Linked DNA regions of Homo sapiens: regions 1, 2, 4 and 5 are each linked to region 3. Evidence: fine-mapped expression QTL. A gene starts in region 3. Each other region holds a variant in brackets. All regions are shown on one strand. Distances are between the middles of the regions.

Region 1 (4,119 bases), 20 kb before region 3:
TACAGGCTTGAACCACCACACCCGGCCACATAGAGAGACTTCTAAAGGACCCTATATACAAGCATTTGGGCAGTTTAGCTCAAGAAATTACATCCATTCCTTTGGTCCCTGGGTAAACGTCGGTTGCATGTTAGGACATGTCAGGATTGTCCTTTGCACTCATGTCTCATAGTACATCCTTTATGGATGGTGGGTCAGGGGCATCGTTTCATTTCCCAAAGGCAGAATATGTTGCCCTTTATGTAAGGTTGATCTTGGGGGGTGTGCAGTGGTTTCTGAAAAGATCATTTAGGTAAATCTTTTTGTCTTTTCATGTATTGAGTTACAGGCAAGACACTGTATAATTAATGACTGCTTCTGGGATTCCAGATGGCATTAGGATGGAATTAATTTACCTCAGTTGGAGGACTACAGTGTGTTCAGTTAAGTGTTTTATTTGCAAAGGTCATGGCAGGATTAGGAAAGTAGCATCAGTCCCTTTTTTAGAGAGGAAGATTGAGGTTGGCGTGGAGAGATGAACAGCTTGCTCACAGTACCAGCTCAAGGAGATGAAAATGTACATGGCCTCACCAACATTGCCTTTGTCTCTGCTGACCCTTCGGTAAAATCAAGGTTAAAAAAAAAAAAGTGAGATATTATAAAATTACAAAAAAGAAAGTCTGGCGATATTATCTGTATATCCATTTATAATAAAACTTAGGGTTTTCCTGCTTTTATATTCATTTAAGTTCAGTAAATGTGCAAAGATCTTTCCAGGGATGGACATTGTATAAATTGTTCTGATTCTTGACAAGTTACCAGAAGGCATTGTAATTCTGTCATTATAAAGAGAACAGAAGTTGTGATGTCACTTCCTGAGAGCATTTGCAAGAACAAATGTGATATTTATGTCAAATAATGACATAATGCAAAAGAAAAGCCAAATGACAGCTTACCCTTGTGGCTATATGCCGGCCAGCGCCTCCAAAACAGGAAGTGGAGAACTGTGAGTCATTCGAGGGAGTGTGGTGGTGAAAAAGAGGAGAAAAGTCCTTCCAGAACAGTCATATTCCAAACAGCCACAGCTGCTTCTTTAACATCACATGGCTAATTACCAGCAGGCAGGGTGGTTTTCCTAAGCCTGACTACCTGGTTTGAGCTGGGGGGCAGCAGCTTTGCCAGTGTGTGAGACAGGCCTGAGTCTGCTTTGTGCACCATTTAGGGACAGTGTCTTGGGGTACATAATGGAGCAAGGTCCCTGGGACCAAGTCTCTGCTGAGGTTGCTGATGTTAGGCAGAGGATGGAGCCTGTTGCTGGGTTCCCTTAATGCTCGTGTCTCCCACATTGCCAGATTATAGGAATCACCTGGGAGCTTTACCAGCGATACAGATTCCCAGAATCTACTCCTAGAGATTTCGATTCAGTAGGTCGGTATGAGGTCGGGGAATTTGTATAATAATCAAGCAACACAGGTGATTACGGTCAGGCTAATTGGGGAGCTGATTCATACTCTGTCGATGATGCCTCTAGTGAGCAATGTACGGAACCAAATGGGCACAGGTGAGCCTCGACCTTGCTCTTGACCACCACCACCTGCATGGAAAGATGAGAGGGATTT[A/G]AAGATGTACTTATGGACCGCATGGAGGTGCTGCAACATTTACTTTCTTACCTGTGGCTATGATGTAGGGATGTCTTCAAGTCTCCCGGCAAGTTTGTTGTTACAGGTGTTCCCCATAGGCAGTGGATGCTTAATAAATGTTTACTGGTGGTGACAACTTATTGCCCTGTGGGTTTTACTTTATCTCTTTTGTAGAAAGCCCTTGGCTGAAAGTGAGCCAAGACTTTATGAAAATCAGGACCCTGGGCCAGGCACAGTGGCTTACGCCTGTAATCCCAGCCCATTGGGAGGCAGAGGTGGGCACACAGGGCAGTGATACGTGCAACAACTTCCCCCAGCTAAAGAGGTCAGGAGTTCAAGACCAGCCTGGCCAACATGGTGGAACACCATCTCTACTAAAAATACAAAAAAAATTAACCGGGCATAGTGGCGAGTGCCTGTAGTCTTGGCTACTCAGGAGGCTGAAGCAGAAGAATCGCTTGAACCTGGGAGGTAAAGGTTGCAGTGAGCTGAGATCACACCACTGCACTCCAGCCTGGGCAGCAGAGCAAGACTCCCTTCTTAAAAAAGAAAAGAAAAGAAAGAAAATCAGGGCCCTGAGGATACCTAGGATGTTTGGGAACCTGGTGGGGGGAGACTTTCCATATCCAACACCCACTGTGGAGGAGGGCTCCCTCTTCTTAACCTAGTGATTCATGGGCTCTTAGGAAGCAGGAGATAGGGCGTTTGACATGTGAAGCAGGAAGTTCAAATTTACTGGTAAAATAGAATTACATGGCCTAATGAGTTTTGGAAATTACCCTAATTATATTTCACGCTGATGTATGCTTTTCCTCTTTTCCGAAATTTCAACTCAAGAATCATTCATTGCTGGTGGCGGAGGGGCGGGGCAGGGCGGGGGTTGGGGAGCTATCATTTCCAAAGAACTGTGCAAGGATTTGCAAGAATACAAGTCAGTCGTTCAGATCCCTGCTATCAAGCCTGACAGAGACAGCAGATGCTCAACATGGTACTAGAGGCAGGAGCTAAGTACCAGATAGATGGGAATAGAAGGGAAGTGTGATTCATTCTCAGTGCATTTTTATTCTCACACGTCCTTTCACTGCCAGGCTTTCTATTTGATGGGACAAATAATGAAACACATAACAAAAACAATACCCATTTGTTAGTGTGTTTTTCTGTCCACAATTGGGGAACAGTTTTTACAGTGCATACATGACATATTACTGTTCTGGCTGTTTCAGGGTGTTGTCAGACTAGATTAACTCATGGTGACTCTGCACTCTTGGCGTCTCATTTATTTCACATGAACTTTGGTATCAGCCCATGAACTGTAGGGGATGTAAATCACATGAGTTCTGTTTCAGGTCACCGCATGACTGTCTGCAGCCTTTTTTCCGGACTTAGTACATTCACTGTGGTAGGCACTCGGTCTCCATGTGACTGCTAACCCTTTCCACAGTTGGGCTTTATTTGCCCACGTGAAAATCACTGATCAGGTCAATTTTATGACACACACACAGGGCAGTGATACTTGCAACAACTTCTCCCAGCGAAAGAGGATGTACTTGGCATCTCTCTGCAGCCAGAACTTGGAGAGGTCCCTTGCCCTGTGTCGTCTGGCATTAACCCTTTAGGTTCAAACTGGAATTCCATGATGGTTGGAGCCATCAGACTGTAAATCCCACATGGGCCCGGACTTTTTCTTGCCTAGTGTCGTGTCTCCAGTGCCTAGAAAGAGGCTTATTTCAGCTGGGCGCAGTGGCTCACGCCTGTAATCCCAGCACTCTGGGAGGCCGAGGCGGGTGGATCATGAGGTCAAGAGATCGAGACAAGCCTGGCCAACATGGTGAAACCCCATCTCTACTAAAAATACAAAAGTTAGTTGGGCGTGGTGGCATGCACCTGTAGTCCCAGCTACTTGGGAGGCTGAGGCAGGAGAATTGCTTGAACCTGGGAGATGGAGGTTGCAGTGAGCCGAGATTGCACCACTGTACTCCAGCCTAGTGACAGAGCAAGACTCCATCTCAAAAAAAACAAAAAACAAAAAAACAAAGAAAGAGGTTTGTCTCATAGCAGGTGCTCAATAAATATGAATGAATGAATGAACTCCCCATGCAAGGGTCTGATGGACACTTCTCCTTTTTTCTTCCAGTTCATATCAGGTGTTAGTGCTTCCCCTGGCCCTCCAAAGCACATTTTCTTGTGATTCTGAAGGCGCTTCCTCCTTCTTTAGCAACGCCTCTGATGCTGATGGATACGTGGCTGCAGAACTACTGGCCAAAGATGTTCCAGATGATGCCATGGAGATACCTATAGGAGACAGGCTGTACTATGGGGAATATTATAATGCACCCTTGAAAAGAGGGAGTGATTACTGCATTATATTACGAATCACAAGTGAATGGAATAAGGTATCTTTCTTTCCAAGCTCTTGTGAACTCTGTATTTTCTTCTTCGTATGACATTTAAATGTTTGAACATTTATTTTCCAAGTATATGAGAGGGTCACTGCATGTAA
Region 2 (4,119 bases), 130 kb before region 3:
CAGATGCAGTGGCTCACTCCTGTAATCCCAGCACTTTGGGAGACCAAGGTGGGAGGATTGCTTGAGCCAAGGAGTTGGAGACCAGCCTGGGCAACATAGCCAGATCTTGTCTCTACAAAAAAAATTTTTTAAATGAGCCAGGCATGATGCTGCGCCCCTGTAGTCCCAGCTACTGGGAGGTTGAGGCTAGTGGACTACCTGAGCCCAAGAGGTTGAGGCTGTGGTGAGCTGTGCACTCCAGCTTGGGCAACAGAACAAGACCTTGTCTCCCCAAGAGGAAAAAAGAGCCTAGGAAGATGAGCTTTTTCTTTGTTTGTTTTTGTTTGTTTGTTTTTTTAAGAGAGGGGGTCTCACTGTATTGCCCACATGGGCCTTGAATTCCTGGACTCAAGCAATTCTCCTGCCCTTCAGCCTCTTTAGTAGCTGGGACTACAGGCATGCCACACTTCACCCAGCTTGAAGTTGATTTTTAACTACTTGTTAAGACTCCACAACTTTAGCCCTTATATGGGTGTGTTTGAAAGTGGTGAGATTTACGGCAGGCTCATGGCAGAGAGTAAACAAGTGAGGATATGGGGTGAAGTAGTGGGGTGCCTGCTCTCGGCTGCGCTCCCACAGACATCACAAGCTCAAAGCCTTCAAACCGGATCTTATTTATTTCCTTCTCCCCGACTAGTCATAAAACCTAGTGGATTCCACTCTTACACACTGCCCTCTTCACACTCATTTGTCAATGCCCAGCTGCAGGACACATCTATCTCTATCTCTATCTGTCTGTCTGTCTGTCTGTCTGTCTATCTATCTATCTATCTATCTATCTATCTATCTATCTATCTATCTATCTATCTGTCTATGGAGTCTCACTCTGTCGCCCAGTCCGGAGTGCAGTGGTGCGAGCTCGGCTCACTTCAACCTCCGCCTCCTGGGTTCAAGCAATTCTCTCGCCTCAGCTTTCCGAGTAGCTGGGATTACAGGTGCCTGCCACCGTGCCCACCTAATTTTTTTTTTTTCAGTAGAGACGGGGTTTCACCAAGTTGGCCAGGCTGGTATCGAGCTCCTGACCTCAAGTGATCCACCCGCCTCGACCTCCCAAAGTGTTGGGATTACAGGCGTGAGCCACCGCACCGGGCCAGGACATGTCTTCTATTGCCTGATTCCTGCAGCAACTCCGGGCTGGACTCTTTGCCTTCCACATCCCAACCCAACCCCAATCCCAATTCCACAGAACAGACAGAGATGTGTCAGTGATGAAGTCATTCACTGCTTGAAACTGTGACAGCTTCCCGGCGACCTCCATCACTTGGGTTAGGAGGGCTAACTTCCCTCTGCAGCTCAACGCCCCTCTCCAACCCTCTGCTCTCACTCTAGGTCCCCATTCCCCATTTCTACAACAAACTCCCGCTTAGATTCCTCCCCAACGTCCTTCTCATCCTTGGGTCTTGGTTTACTCCTTCCCTTGGGATGAGTACGGCTGTGATGGAGGTAGGGGCTGGCATCAGCGCGTCCCAAGCCGGGTGTCCTCAGAGCAGCGGGGACTGATGCCAGCCCCTCCCTCCATCACAGCCCTACTCTCTCTCACTCCCGGTGACCAGGTGTCACCTGGTCAAGTGTGTCGCCCCTGGGTGGCCTGGGTCTGCGTCTTCCGACCTCTCATCTGGGCCTTGCGCTGTGGTCACCTCATCCAGCTCCCTTTCACGTCCTGGAAGATTTCCGCCCCTTGCTCCCCTCACCCCTCTCCCCGGGGGTGCCTCCCTGAGCCCTCGAGTGGCTTGAATCCTCCGCAACATTTCCTCCCCAGCACTCTCCGGGGCTCTGCGTCCAGCTGTGTCATTATCCGATGAGTGTCTGTCCCCCTTTGCGAATGTGAGCGGCGAGAGGGCAGCAAGTGCGGAGCCAGAGACGGACGCGGAACGGGCGTGTCCTAAGCCCAGGCCCCGACA[A/G]GAGGAAGGACCCGCGCTCTGCGGCCTCCCGGGGACCCCGCAGCGCCCCCCGCTTCCCTCGGCGGCGCCGGAAGCCGCCGGCTGGTCCCCTCCCCGCGGCGCCTGTAGCCTTATCTCTGCACCCTGAGGGCCCCGGGAGGAGGCGCGGGCGCGCCGGGAGGGACCGGCGGCGGCATGGGCCGGGGGCCCTGGGATGCGGGCCCGTCTCGCCGCCTGCTGCCGCTGTTGCTGCTGCTCGGCCTGGCCCGCGGCGCCGCGGGAGCGCCGGGCCCCGACGGTGAGTGCGGGCTGGGACGGGCACGGGCGGCCGGCGGGGCCCCCGGCTGGGCCTCGAGGACTCTGGGCGCACGGACGCTTCCCCGCCCCTGGGCCGGGCCGGCGCGGTGCCGAGGCGTGGGGCGCAGGTGGGGCCCGCGCCGGCCGTTGGAGATCGGCAAGGAGGAGCTCAGAGAAGCGGGGGGCTCCCCGCCGGGCTTCCCTGCCCCCGCCCGACCCCGCGACGCCGGGGGACGCCGGTTTTAAGGCGGCCTGGCCGGGCCCCCAGGGACCTCCACTGCCCAGGAGGCGGGGTGGGGGCTGGGCGCGAGCGCGGACCCGGGCAGGGCGGCGCCCGGGGAAGGGCGGGGAGGCCAGGGCGTTCTGCGGCGCTGTCACGCTTCCGGCTCTGCGGTGGCTTTTGCATGACACATTTTTGACCCGAAGCAATTTTCTTACCACTTTTAATTTTTTCACGTTGTTAGAGAGCCGGATGCTAAATATGGTGAGAAAGACGCGTAAGGAAGAGTACAGGAGTGAAGCCATTAATTCACTCATTCATTCAACAGATGGCCCTTGAACAGCTTCCCTGTGCGCGATGAGGGCGGGCAGTGCGGGCCCTCGTGGAGCTCATTGTCTGGAGGATTTAGACCAGCAAATGTTCTATTTCCAAGCAATCGAGGGAGTTGTTTTTCCTCCTCTGCAAAATGCAGTGTTGAGCTGAGTAGGAATTACACAGAGGATTCAGACACGCAGGGGAGGTGACATTCATCCACATAACTGTAATACAAGGCAGAATGGCATGGGTGCCATGAGAAGGTGTGGGTGGTGAGGGCAGGGAAAGGGGAATCGGTGGTGACCCTTGAGCTGGGCCATCAATGATTGGTCATATTTGGATATGGGAAAATGTGAAAAAGGTATCCCAGCTCATAGCAGAAGGCACTGTCACCTCTCCACAAATGAGTGTAGAATGAATGAATTCCTTCAGAATTCAGGCCCGGGGGAGAAGGGAAGGAAGCACACGGAGGCACCAGAGGCAGAGGGCAGAGTGCCTTGATTGGCAGACCTAGGCCTTTGGACTTAGCTGTGCCTGGAAGCCACTGGAAGCCGTCTCAGGGAGTGACAAGAAAAGTGGGTCTAGCCAGTTCTAGGCGCTTCGGGAGCCACAGGTTACAGTGCAGACATGGCCAAATCCAAGCACCACACCACACACAACCAGTCCCGAAAATGGCACAGAAACGGCATCATGAAACCCGGATCACAAAGATACGAATCTTTTAAAGGGGTGGACCCCAAGTTCCTGACAAACATGCGGTTTGCCAAGAAGCACAATAAGAGGGGCCTAAAGAAGATGCAGGGCGACAGTGCCAAGGCCATGAGTGCACGTGCTGAGGCCTTGCCCTCATAAACCCCAAGGAGGTTAAGCCCAAGATTCCAAAGGGTGTCAGCTCTTGCCTACGTTGCCCACCTCAAGCTTGGGAAACGTGCTCGTGCCCGCATTGCCAAGGGGCTCAGGCTGTGCCAGCCAAAGACCAAGGTCAAGGATCAAACCAAGGCTCAGGCTGCAGCTCCAGCTTCAGTTCCAGCTCAGACTCCCGAAGGAGCTCAGGCCCCTACAAAGCCTTCAGAGTAGAGATCTGTGTCTGCCAACGTGAGGACAGAAGGATTGTCCCCCTTGGACTGCCATCTGCATGGGGCTGATGTCCTCCTTTGCTATTTGTATAAGTAAACTTGAGGCGGGGGAAAGAGGGTCTAAGGAACCCCCATCTTCCTTACTAAAACCAAACGCTGATCCTGAAGTGGAAGGAAATTTCCATGTGATGACATACAAGGAGACTTGTGGTTGAGAATCCTGCCTGCCGCCCCCACCCCCATTCTCTTTGGCTTGGGACTTTTACCATGCCTGATGGGTATTTCAATGGCT
Region 3 (4,119 bases):
CAACTCAACTGTGAGTGTTTTTTAGTTTATAATCGGGGATCTCCCTGGAGTTGGCATGTGATGGTCCCCAAATAGAAAGTATGTCTTTCAAAGTACTTTTATCCTCTCAGTAAACCTGCTGACCTGAGCAGGGAAGTATGACCCTTGTTGAGGTATGGAGAAAATGACAGGTGACTCAACAAAGGATATTCCTTTGCTCTATCTGACCATCAGGGCTATCAGTTTTGGAAACCAAATTCAAATAATATCATAATGACTTGTCCCTCCATGCAAAAGAAAACGGCCCATAAAAATCTATCAAATGTAATTGATTGTGAGAGGACCAACAAAAAATGTAACACGTTGCATAGTATTTGTGTGCTCAACAAGATTAGCTGTTTTCTCCCTTGTAACTTTAACATGGTCTGGCTTTACACTTCCTTTTCAGAAATACCTTGTAACTGTAATTTCCTGAGGCTGCATATCCACAGGGCCAACTCAGGGGACACACAGGCATGTTGGGCATTCTTGGGATTCTTTGTTAAATGGGGCCAAGCTCTGGGTTAAAATGGATTGAGCACAGTGGGGTGTGTGCCTCCTGGGAGGTGGTGATGCCGTGCACTCTGGGCTAAGCCTGTGGTTTTGTCCCACAGATTCGTCACTCATGCTGCTGCAGATGGCGGGTGTTGGACTGGGTTCCCTGGCTGTTGTGATCATTCTCACATTCCTCTCCTTCTCAGCGGTGTGGTATGTGAGGGTGTCATTTTTGAGAAATGACTGGAATGGAGGGGAGGATGGGTCAGAGTCACGAAGAACAGCTGGGGATGAGGGGAGTCAAAGGGAGTGTGGGTGGAGGTTGTCCTTGGCTCAGCAGAGCACACTCAGCGGTGAAAGGCATGACTAACCCTGTACCTCCAGGTAGCATGGGGGATGCCTTCCCAGGAAAAGAGCAGGACCAGTGATGGCTGCCCTGGCCACACACAGAGGGGTGGCTGAGCTTCCATGCTGCTCCCCCTCGCCTCCTCCCATGGGTGTGCGTGTGAGCTGTGCATAGAGATGCACAGTGGGAAAACCAAAGTGTGTTCATATTTGTCTCTTTTCTTTTCCTCCTCCATGTCTAGATGGCAGATGGACACTGAGTGGGGAGGATGCACTGCTGCTGGGCAGGTGTTCTGGCAGCTTCTCAGGTGCCCGCACAGAGGCTCCGTGTGACTTCCGTCCAGGGAGCATGTGGGCCTGCAACTTTCTCCATTCCCAGCTGGGCCCCATTCCTGGATTTAAGATGGTGGCTATCCCTGAGGAGTCACCATAAGGAGAAAACTCAGGAATTCTGAGTCTTCCCTGCTACAGGACCAGTTCTGTGCAATGAACTTGAGACTCCTGATGTACACTGTGATATTGACCGAAGGCTACATACAGATCTGTGAATCTTGGCTGGGACTTCCTCTGAGTGATGCCTGAGGGTCAGCTCCTCTAGACATTGACTGCAAGAGAATCTCTGCAACCTCCTATATAAAAGCATTTCTGTTAATTCATTCAGAATCCATTCTTTACAATATGCAGTGAGATGGGCTTAAGTTTGGGCTAGAGTTTGACTTTATGAAGGAGGTCATTGAAAAAGAGAACAGTGACGTAGGCAAATGTTTCAAGCACTTTAGAAACAGTACTTTTCCTATAATTAGTTGATATACTAATGAGAAAATATACTAGCCTGGCCATGCCAATAAGTTTCCTGCTGTGTCTGTTAGGCAGCATTGCTTTGATGCAATTTCTATTGTCCTATATATTCAAAAGTAATGTCTACATTCCAGTAAAAATATCCCGTAATTAAGATTGTTCTTCCCTTGGTTAATTTTTCTGTTACTAAGCGTCTTCTAAAAATGCTCTTTGCCCCCTGTTAGAAACTGAGATTTGGTGGTAGTGTAGTAGCAATGCTTAAAACAGTATTGAGCCCATGGCTAGACTAGAGTCCATGTGTGTTTCAGGGGAGGGGTTGCCATAGAGGGTGACACTTCTTTTATCTAAACTTCAGTAACTATGAATGTTACTCCATTATGAACTATGAAACATTAGATATAAGCGGTGCTGGACCTACTGTGAATATGCTAAGTTGACAGCTGGAGTCTATTTGATTTTACTTTTAAATCATGAATTGGCATTCTTTCCTCTTTTTTTTTTTTTTTTTTTTGAGATGGACTCCCACTCTGTTGCCCAGGCTGGAGGGAAGTGGCGTGATCTCAGCTCACTGCAACCTCTGCCTCCCGGGTTCAAGTGATTCTCCTGCCTCAGCCTCCCATGTAGCTGGGACCACAGGGCCCCCCCACCACGCCCAGGTAATTTTTGTATGTTTAGTAGAGATGGAGTTTCACCATGTTGGCCAGGGTGGTTTCAAACTCCTGATCTCAGTTGATTCGCCCACCTTTGCCTCCCAAAGTGCTGAGATTACAGGTGTGAGCCACACGCCCGGCACTAACTAACAATTTAACTCCAAGACTCAGTAAGAAACGAATGGGGAAGGAAAGACAGAGGCTTCTGGCATCTCTCCTTCTCCCTTGCCTGCTAGGCCTAGAGAAGAAAAACCATGGAGGAGGGGAGGTGATACTGCACAGCCTCAAGATGCAGCATAGACGAATGCAGTCCTTAGCAAAAGGAAAGGGCTTCCCAATGCAGTGGGCCGGTGTGTTCACCGGCTTGCTGGGTGTCAGTGAGGGAAGACTCTGAGTGCCTTGGGCTTATGGGCAGATGAAGAGACAAGAGGAACAAGTACAAACTGCCCATGTAGCTGCTCCACCCCAGGGAGTCCAGAGTGTATCCGCTCTATTGGGAAGAATTAGAGAGAGGCGAGTAATATCCTGACATTCAGGTGTTCAATGCCAGCTGTCAGCCTCTGGCCCCTGCCAGTGTTAGGAATGATTCCCCTGTCCTCTGGGGTACTGCCCTCCGACGACAACTTAGGATCAGCATTTAAAACCCTTTCTGCTCTCGTCTTAGGTAAATTATAGACCAGAACGGGTCTATAATGGGGACAGGTCCCCATCCTAACCCCCAGAGACCGTTTCTCTCAATAGATGAATACAAATAGCTCTCAATTTTTAATTTTTATGTGCAATAATGCAAACATACTTTTTTTTTTTTTTGAGACGGAGTCTCACTCTTTCTCCCAGGCGGGAGTGTAGTGGCGCTATCTCGACTCACTGCAAGCTCCGCCTCCCGGGTTCACGCCATTCTCCTGCCTCAGCCTCTGGAGTAGCTGGGACTACAGGTATCCGCCACCGTGCCCAGCTAATTTTTTGTATTTTTAGTAGAGATGGGGTTTCACCGTGTTAGCCAGGATGGTCTCGATCTCATGACCTCGTGATCCACCCGCCTTGGCCTCCCAAAGTGCTGGTATTACAGGCATGAACCACCACGCCTGGCCGCAAACATACATTTTTATAGCTCCTGAACTAAATTGGGTATCAATACAAATTACTGTGGTTAGTGTAGGGCTCGGCCTCTGATGAGTGAGGATCTTTCCTCAAAGCCCACCTTTGTCCAAAGAAAGAATCTGAGCCTCCCCTTGACTTATTTTATTTTTTGCCAGTTTTGTAAATGCTGTATGCTTCCATACTACCCCCTTCCCTAATTTCCACCTCTAGAATTAACTGCCAGAGATACAGTTGTCCACATGGAATGTAGTATAATTGTGATAGAAAGGAAGAAATCCCCCTTGCTTAGTATTAAAAGTTTCTGGTTAAAATAACTGACTAAATATTAAGTAAAACATCACCTTCTGGGTACAATGCAGAAAAGTAAAAGCAGTTCATATAAGATTACTAAACTTTGGGAGGTCTTCAAGACCAGCCCTGGCAACATAGCGAGACCCCATGTCTGCAAAAAAAGTTTTAAAAATTAGCCGGGCATGGTGGCGTGCACTTGTAGTCCCAGCTACTCAGGAGGCTGAGGCAGGAGGATCGCTTGAGCCCAGGAGTCTGAGGTTGCAGTGAGCCGTGGTGACACCACTGCACTCCCGCCTGGGTGACAGAGTGAGATCCAAAAAAATTTACTGAAATAACAAAAACGTGGACTTTGGGATTTCCTCTAACTGCTGCAAATTATAACACAGAATTGCTCAGTGTTAATACTTGAATTGTGGGGCCA
Region 4 (4,119 bases), 70 kb before region 3:
TCTAAGTCAGGTAATGGGCCACGCTCATTCATGATGAAGAGAAGTTGGGTGATTGGCTTGGGAGAGCTTGCATTGCCTGACTCAGTGTCTGCCTCTGAGGATGAATGGTGACCAGCAGAGATACCAGCTATGCAGAGAGACTGATCTCCTTTAGAATTTTGCTAAAGCCCATTGATGCATTTTGTGAGTTGACTGCCTTTTTCTCTTTTAGAAATTCTGACAAAGATTAATGATGTATCACTGTTTAATGATACCTGTGTGAGATGGCAAATAAACTCAAGAAGAATAAACCCCAAGATCTCATATGTGGTAAGTAAAGTGATCTACTTTTTCCTGCTAGGACAGACACGTCACCCATGGGAATATGAGTCAGAGGGACTTGCTTCCGTGAGAGCTTCTCAATCTAATTGCTGTTTTTTTTTCTTTTTTTCTTTTATTTTTTTTGTGAGACAGTCTCACTCTGTTGCCCAGGCTGGAGTGCAGTGGTGGGATCTTGGCTCACTGCAACCTCAGCCTCCCGGGTTCAAGCGATTCTCCTGCCTCAGCCTCCTGAGTAGCTGGGATTAGAGGTGTGCACTACCATGCTTGGCTAATTTTTTGTATTTTCAGTAGAGATGGGGTTTCACCACGTTGGCCAGGCTGGTCTTGAACTTCTGACCTCAGATAATCCACCTACCTCGGCCTCCCAGAGTGCTGGGATTATAGGCATGAGCCACCGCGCCTGGCCTCAATCTAATTGCTTTCTGATCCCATTGTCATTTAAAAAGAGTGGATGGAATTTTTGAAGATATCTGGATGATTTCGTTATTTTGCATTTTGTGTTTAACATATTTGTCATTCAGCAGGGTGCATGTGTGGGGGATGCATTTATATTTGGCATCCTCACGATTGCTTGTTTCCAAGCACTTGTATTTCACTCCCCCAGAGCAAGCCCGGGAGCGTCTGCTGACTTGGTGACAGAGTGCAGCCAATGGTCCTCAGGTTGCAATTGTCTCCATTTGATCATTTGTGTGCAGGAGAGCACTTCCTAGGGAGATTTCTCATTTATGTCTCCTCTAGGGGTTTAATATTCACTGGGCTGATCAGACTTTATCAGCAGACCAGGTTTACCTTACGAATGCTCCCTGGCTGAGCAGCACAGTATAAAATAGAATAGTAGGAGAATGGGCTCCAGCACCACAAATCCTGGATTGTTTTGACTGGAGTCAGAGTGGGTTCTCTTGTCTTTTCCTCTCAAAGATATCCATAAAAGGACAACGGTTGGACCCTATGGAATCAGTTCGTGAGGAGACAGTCAACTTGACCACAGACAGCAGGACCCCAGAAGTGTGCCTAGCCCTGTACCCAGGCACCAACTACACCGTGAACATCTCCACAGCACCTCCCAGGCGCTCGATGCCAGCCGTCATCGGTTTCCAGACAGCTGGTAGGTGGAGGTGAAGTCTCATTTCCTCCTAGAAAATGCTAAGCACAGAATGTGGGGAAGTATGCTGCAGAATCAGCTGGGCTGGAGAGCTCCTATTTGCTGTCTGAGATTTATACTCAGATGTAGTTGCTCCAGCCACAGAACTAGAGCAGGTCAAGAGATCCGTATCCTCTTGGTACCAGGCTGAATGGGCTCTGGGGTATTTTTTCTCAGCTGAGCCCTCCGGGAGAGGTGGAAAGTAATAAAAAGGCATTTAAAAGGAATGCCTTTTAAATGATGATCAGTCCACTCTCAAATATCCAAGGCAACAGAGGGTAGCCATGTGGCTTATCTTTGGTAGTAAACTCAAAAGTCATTTCTGGCCAGGTGTGGTGGCTCACGCCTATAATCCCAGCACTTTGGGAGGCTGAAGTGGGCAGATCACTTGAGGTCAGGAGTTCCAGACCAGCCTGGCCAACATGGCAAAACCTTATCTCTACTGAAAATAGAAAAACTTAGCTGGGTGTGGTGGCACACACCTGTAGTCCCAGCAACTCGGGAGGCTGAGGCACAAGAATCACTTGAACCCAGGGGGCAGAAGTTGCAGTGAGTGAACCGAGATTGCACCACTGCACTCCTGCCTGGGCAACAGGGCAAGACTCTGTCTCAAAAAAAA[C/A]CCAAAAAAACCAAAAAGCCATTTCTTGCTCTTGCGTGTGAAAGAGGAGGTGCCAGGGAGGCTGACCCAGCAGCTTTAAAGAGATCAAGTTGAGAGTGGGGAAGTGGAAGCAGGGGCACCCCTAGGGTGCAGGAGGGTAGGTGTTAGCTGAAAAAAGGAGTGGAATGAAGGAGCTTTAAGAAGTAGAAATAAACCTCATTTTACATAATTGTCATGTGGGTTTTTAACAACATTGTGACAATTACAGTAAGTTAAAAAAAAAAAGCTCTGGTTATGGGTATGAGGACTAATTAAATACCTTGTAGACAGGTGGGGCACGGTGACTCATGTCTGTAATCCCTGCACTTTGGGAGGCTGAGGAGGATTGCTTGAGGCCAGGAGTTTGAGGTCAACCTGAGCAACACAGTGAGGCCCCATCTCTACAAAAAAAAAAAAGAAAGAAAATTTAGCTTGGTGTGATGGTGCATGCCTATAGTCCCAGTTACTCGGGTGGCTGAGGCGAGAGGATCACTTGTTCAAGGCTGCAGTGAGCTATGATCATGCCACTGCACTCCAACCTGGGTGACGGGGCAAGACCCTGTCTCAGAAAACAAACAAAAAACCCGGTAGACAAACCTTGACAAGTAATTGATGTCATTTATTTATTTTTTGAGATGGAGTCTTGCCCTGTCGCCCAGGCTGGAGTGCAGTGGTGCGATCTCAGCTCACTGCAATCTTTGCTTCCTAGGTTCAAGCAATTCTCCTGCCTCAGCCTTCTGAGTAGCTGGGATTACAGGCATCCACGACCGTGCCTGGCTATTTTTTGTATTTTTAGTAGAGACTGAGTTTCACCTTATTGGCCAGGCTGGTCTTAAACTCCTGACCTCAAGTGATCTGCCCATCTCAGCCTCCCAAAGTGCTGGGATTATAGGCGTGAACCACCACAGCTGGCCGATGTCATTTATTATTTTGGGGGAGTTGAGAAAGTTCTTAATTAGCTGTTTGCTATCCCACTGAAACTGTACCTTAACCCGAGTAGCTGGGAATAGTTCAGCAGAAATAGTTGAAAAAGTCTGCCAATCTTAACAATATAAAACCAACTATGAGATTATACAAATTAGGTCTCTTGACATTTGTATATAAATAAAACAAAATTAATTCTTTGCAAGTAAATAATATGCAGGCAAAGATATTATAAAATTAATATGGTAACTAATCAGAGAAGTCTTACAAAATTATTAGTAAACTACTATAGGGAAATGTCTTTAAAAGATCATCACTCACCTGCCACTGTTCAGTGAGGATGACAGGTTGCTGTTTGGCGTCAGCTGTTTTTACTAATATCCAATTACCTGTTCAAGTTCCTTTCCCTTGGGAAAAACATGGTCTTTGGAGTCAGGCAGATCCGGTTTTGCATCTTAACTCTGTATTGAAGAGTTGGCTGATCATGGCTGAGTTATTTAATGTCTCTGGACTAAAGGGAATTGGATTATATTTGCAAGTTAATCTAGAGAGAATTAGGATTTATGTTGAGCCATCCTAACTGGGAGCAAGGTATGTTTCCACATTTACTCAGTGTCTACTCAGGTCTTCTGTTTATTTATGCACTGTTATAAAGACTTGTCATTTTTTTCCTCTAGATCCTGGACATTCTGTTGTCTGATTTCATTATTGGAGTTATGCTATTTTCCTTAAAATGAATTGGGAAGTTTTCCATTGTTTTTCCCTCTGGAATACTTTATATCATGTTTGAATTATTCCCTTCTTTTAAAGTTGAAAACTTTCTCAAAAGATTGTTGAAGTTTCACCCCTTTCAGGAGATGATTCTTTAAGAACTTTGTCAATTTCTTCCATGATTTTGGGTCTGTTTATGTTTCTGACATTTTCTTGAGTCAATTTTTATATTTTTCTAAAAAATGTATATTTGGTTGATATACTACACATATTGGCAGAATGGCATATGGAATATTTGCTTACATCTCCTCTGGGGTCATAGGTTATATAATCCCAGGTTATTCTGACTCCTAAGTTTGGTTCTTTCTCTTTTTAGAGGTTGATT
Region 5 (4,119 bases), 76 kb before region 3:
GAAGGGTGGATCACCTGAGGTCAGGAATTTGAGACCAGCCTGGCCAACATGGTGAAACCCCGTCTCTACTAAAGATACAAAAATTAGCTGGGTGTGGTGGCACGCGTCTGTAGTCCCAGCTACTCGGGAGGCTGAGGCTGGAGGATCACTTGAACTCAGGAGGCGGAGGTTGCAGTCAGCTGAGAACATGCCACTGCACTCCATCCTGGGCTACAGCGCAAGACTCCGTCTCCAAAAAAGAAAAAAAGTATTCGCGTGCCACCAAAAATCATCCCAAAGTGTGCAATATATTTTACACTAACGTACTCTAAGCCATGCTACTCCTACTTATTTTATGTGAATCTAAGACTTCAAAGAAAGAAAGGAAACACATGAAAACTTTTATAGCCAAACATACATTTATTCAAGTAGGCACTGTGGGAAGCCATACCCTGATTTCTGTGGTGCTGCCATTATCATCATGTGTTTGCCTTGGAATCCTATTTGATAATGTCCTTTGGAGGTAGTTTATGAGCCGTATTAGAAGATCAGTTACATTCCTTTTGAAATCAGATGCTGTTTTGACTAGAAATGATGCTGAGCTTGCTTGACCATCTGTTTGGGTCACCTGGATTTATTCTCTATGACCTTTTGCTGTTTCCAAAAATAAAGAAAAAGGATATAAAATTGGAAACCAAGGGAGTACACTAGACCAGCCCCTGTCCTTGCACAGTGGGACTTCTGAAAGAGTAGTCTGGGCTCACTGTCTTATTCCCTCCCCTCCTATGCTCTTCTCAGCCTACTGGGGGGAAACCAGGCATCGAACACCCCCACTTCACTGTAGCATCTCACCAAGGTGACTGATGACTACCTAACTGCCAATTTCATGTTCCAGTTTCAGCTGTCATTCTTCTCAACCTTTCCACAACATTTAGCATTGTTGATCCTTTATCCATCCATTCAACCAGTTCAACCAAATAATACATAGTTTTTAGTATCTATATTTAAGGCACTGTGCTAGGGCCTGAGGATAGAGAGAGAAACATGGTCTTTGCCATCGTAAAGTTACATTCAGGAGAGGTGGTCATTATATAATGACTTACGTATTTAGTTACAAGTGTGTTAAGTACCACATACAGAAATACTAGATGCTAACAAAATACCAAAATACATAACATTATGTACATCTATATCTATATATACATAACATATATATGTACCTGTGTGTACACACACACACATAGAGTAAAGCAAAACAAAGGCTCTTACTTTATCACTCACTGAGACTTTCTCTCCCCAAATCCAGTGAGACTTCAGCTGGACACTGTGGGGGCCTCCTTCTTTTAAGCCAGAGAGGCCTCTGTGTTCTACAACTGGGCAGGCTGAGGGCCTGCTCTTCCCACCTCTACCCAAAGTCAAACCACAGATCTAATCCTGATGCCGTGGGCACTCCATGAGGGGAGAAAAGCCATGTGAGAGGAGAGAGGGAGATGGAGTTTGCACCCTCTGCCTTGACCTGCTCCAGGCCCTTCTTGGCTAGGGGATGAGGAGGCTGTGGGAGACTGGTGGGAAAGAAGGCTGATAATTTTCTTAAAAGAATTTATTTTTATTTTTTAGGGACAGAGTCTTGTTGTATCACCCAGGCTGGAGTGCAGTGGCACGATCTCAGCTCACTGCAACCTCCGCCTCCCAAGTTCAAGTGATTCTCGTGCCTCGGCCTCTTGAGTAGCTGGGATTACAGGTGTGCACCACCACACCTGGCTAATTTCTCTATTTTTAGTAGAGACATGTTTTTGCCATGTTGGCCAGGCTGGTCTTGAACTCCTGGCCTCAAGTAATCCGTCTGCCTCGGCCTCTCAAAGTGCTGAGATTACAGGTGTCAGCCACTGTGCCTGGCCTTGGAAGGCTGAGAGACACTCTTTCAAGTCCTTCCTTTCCTTCCTAGACATCAGTCACTCTACCAGCCTCCTGCCTCTCTTCTGCATTGCCTTTTTCCTCTGGTTCCCCCCTGGGTTTCAGTGTTTCCCAGTGTTCTGCCATTGGGCCATTCACTGTCTCTGTCCTACCTGCATATCTCACCTGCACCCATACCTTCAACTAACATTCACAGATCTATGACTTTCAAGAGTACTTTTTCCCTACATAGTCAGCAGATAACATCGTCACAGCCCAGTGCCTGGCATGGCAGGATGCTTGGCATTTGATAGCCATTCAGTTAGTAGTGAGCAGGGAATGAAAGAGCCC[T/C]GGGACAGCTCCAAAGAGGACTTCCAGAAATGTTTTCAGTTATCAGCACTATTGGAATGAGGGCATATAGTCTCCATTAAAAGGGCAGCATTAATGTAGATGTTGAATATCTGATTCTTTTATAAAGGAGTCTTTCCAACTAATTTGTAGGCACCTGGAGGGAAAAGCAACCAAACTTTGTTAAACTGCTCCCTGGGATGAAATATCTGACACCCCTATAATTGGATCTGGGTCCCATCTGTGCAGAGAGCATGGCACAGGCTGGAGGCAGATGGCATCTTTGAGATGCCATTTACAGTTGTCATAGTGAATGAGCAAGAAGGAAGGACAAGAAAGAAAACTCCTTTCTAATCTCTGCTTCGATGACAAAGGAACTGAGAGTAAAAAGGAAATTCGCTTTGCTGGCAACTCAGAGAGAAGATGAGGGCTGGGCTGGTGCCTTTTCTTTCTGGACCAGGTGGTGAGTTAGCATCAAAGGGATGTGTAAGTGAGCAGAGATGCCAAGAGCTCTGGGGCTTTGAAGGGCAGCAAAGAGGGTAGAGGCCAGAAATATCTGGGGCTTGTTCAGGCTGATAAAAGACTGGTACCAACATCATCTTTATGCTACCCAAGGGGGCGAACTGAAGGTCATTGTGTCTCTTAGGGTACCCATGCTCATAATTGGAGTATTTCTTTTCTTTTTTTTTTCTTTTTTTTTTTTTTTGCAATGGAGTCTCATTCTGCCGCCCAGGCTGCAGTGCAGTGGCACAATCTTGGCTCACTGCAACCTCTGCCTCCCAGGTTCAAGCAGTTCTCGTGCCTCAGTCTCCCAAGTAGCTGGAATTATAGGTATGTACCACCACGCTTGGCTAATTTTTTTGTATTTTTAGTAGAGATGCGGTTTCACCATGTTGCCCAGGCTGGTCTCAAACTCCTGACCTCAAGTGATATGCCCATCTCAGCCCCGCAAAGTGCTAGGATTACAGGCGTGAGCCACCGCACCCACTTGGCCCACAATTGGAGTATTTCTTTGATTTCAAATTGTGTGTGTTCTAGGGAGAAATACTGATATAGAGATCCAGGAATGCTGCAGACAGCCATAGGTGGCCTTTCTGGTATCTCGGCAGGAGTTTGCCTATTTTTCCCTCTCTGCCTCCATTGATTTTCACTTGCTAATAGATAACTTGGGCTTACCCAAGACCAGGTCATGTGGGACACAGAATCTAGGCATTGCTGCTGAAGGGATGATTTAGTAAAGATATAAACTCTTCTTTGGGCAGAGAGGTCAGTAGATCTGGGTCAATCCAAAGCTAGCATTGGTTCTGAGTACAGGAGAATAGGATTGGCCCTACAGGTACCTAAGGTGCAGGCTTCCTTTTGCACTTGGAGACTGCGAAGAGATTTACTAGAAGGGAGAAACGGGAGCTGAGTTGTGGAGAGTCATTTTCTGACATGGAGAAATAGCTTTCTCACTCTTCTTAGATGGGAGCCTTTCACTGGGTTTATATTTATTATGCAGTAGAGAATCAAATCCCAGGCACCAGGAGTGGGAAACAAGGGCAGTAAAACAGGGAAAGAAGGAGAGTCAGCGTATGATGCCTGATTGTACTGGTCTCCACAGAGGGTGGGCATTACCACATCTGTGTGACAGTGTCCTTAGACGCTGAAGAAACTAAGTCTTTGTTGGACAGCCCTTCAGAGGAAAGAAAGGAGGAAGGATTTCTCTACCAGCTCCTGTCCCCACAGGATTTTAACTCCCCTGCACTTCCAGATGGCATGTGCTGGGGTGTGGGTGCTGCAGCAGGGAAGTCCCAGAATAGGAGGCAAGACCTGGTCATGTTGTCAAAACCCATCCAGGGATGGGACAAGGAGCAGGGGAAGCTGAGAGAGGCTGAGGAGTTCTTAAGAGGTGTCTGC

Evidence for each region. PIP is the estimated chance that this variant, and not a neighbour inherited with it, causes the effect.
Region 1: its variant is fine-mapped to the expression of LINC02977 in blood mononuclear cells (TOPMed, PIP above 0.99).
Region 2: its variant is fine-mapped to the expression of LINC02977 in blood mononuclear cells (TOPMed, PIP above 0.99). The same link has a PIP of 0.9 or more in monocytes, prefrontal cortex, subcutaneous fat, tibial nerve and whole blood.
Region 4: its variant is fine-mapped to the expression of LINC02977 in macrophages (Nedelec 2016, PIP 0.95).
Region 5: its variant is fine-mapped to the expression of LINC02977 in cerebellar hemisphere (GTEx, PIP above 0.99). The same link has a PIP of 0.9 or more in cerebellum.

What each region holds. Positions count from the first base shown.
Region 1 is chr9:112,058,321-112,062,439 of GRCh38, reverse strand. It overlaps SUSD1 (sushi domain containing 1), which reads left to right. Exons shown (of 17, transcript NM_022486.5): 14 at 3,754-4,012. Among named protein-coding and RNA genes, the nearest start is that of LINC02977, 20 kb to the right of the region's middle. The variant A/G (reference allele first, on the strand shown) is at 1,599.
Region 2 is chr9:112,173,231-112,177,349 of GRCh38, reverse strand. SUSD1 (sushi domain containing 1) reads left to right here and starts at 2,053. Exons shown (of 17, transcript NM_022486.5): 1 at 2,053-2,217. The coding sequence starts at 2,115. It also overlaps the pseudogene RPL29P20. RefSeq lists a silencer at 1,935-2,594. The variant A/G (reference allele first, on the strand shown) is at 1,941.
Region 3 is chr9:112,038,474-112,042,592 of GRCh38, reverse strand. It overlaps LINC02977 (long intergenic non-protein coding RNA 2977), which reads left to right and starts at 2,169. Exons shown (of 3, transcript NR_186812.1): 1 at 2,169-4,119. It overlaps SUSD1 (sushi domain containing 1), which reads left to right. Exons shown (of 17, transcript NM_022486.5): 16 at 633-726; 17 at 1,101-1,810. The coding sequence ends at 1,101. RefSeq lists enhancers at 1-31, 122-171, 283-921, 327-1,526, 922-1,561.
Region 4 is chr9:112,108,961-112,113,079 of GRCh38, reverse strand. SUSD1 (sushi domain containing 1) reads left to right here. Exons shown (of 17, transcript NM_022486.5): 7 at 212-309; 8 at 1,240-1,426. Among named protein-coding and RNA genes, the nearest start is that of SUSD1, 64 kb to the left of the region's middle. The variant C/A (reference allele first, on the strand shown) is at 2,082.
Region 5 is chr9:112,114,616-112,118,734 of GRCh38, reverse strand. The region is part of intron 6 of SUSD1 (sushi domain containing 1); the gene reads left to right. Among named protein-coding and RNA genes, the nearest start is that of SUSD1, 59 kb to the left of the region's middle. The variant T/C (reference allele first, on the strand shown) is at 2,224.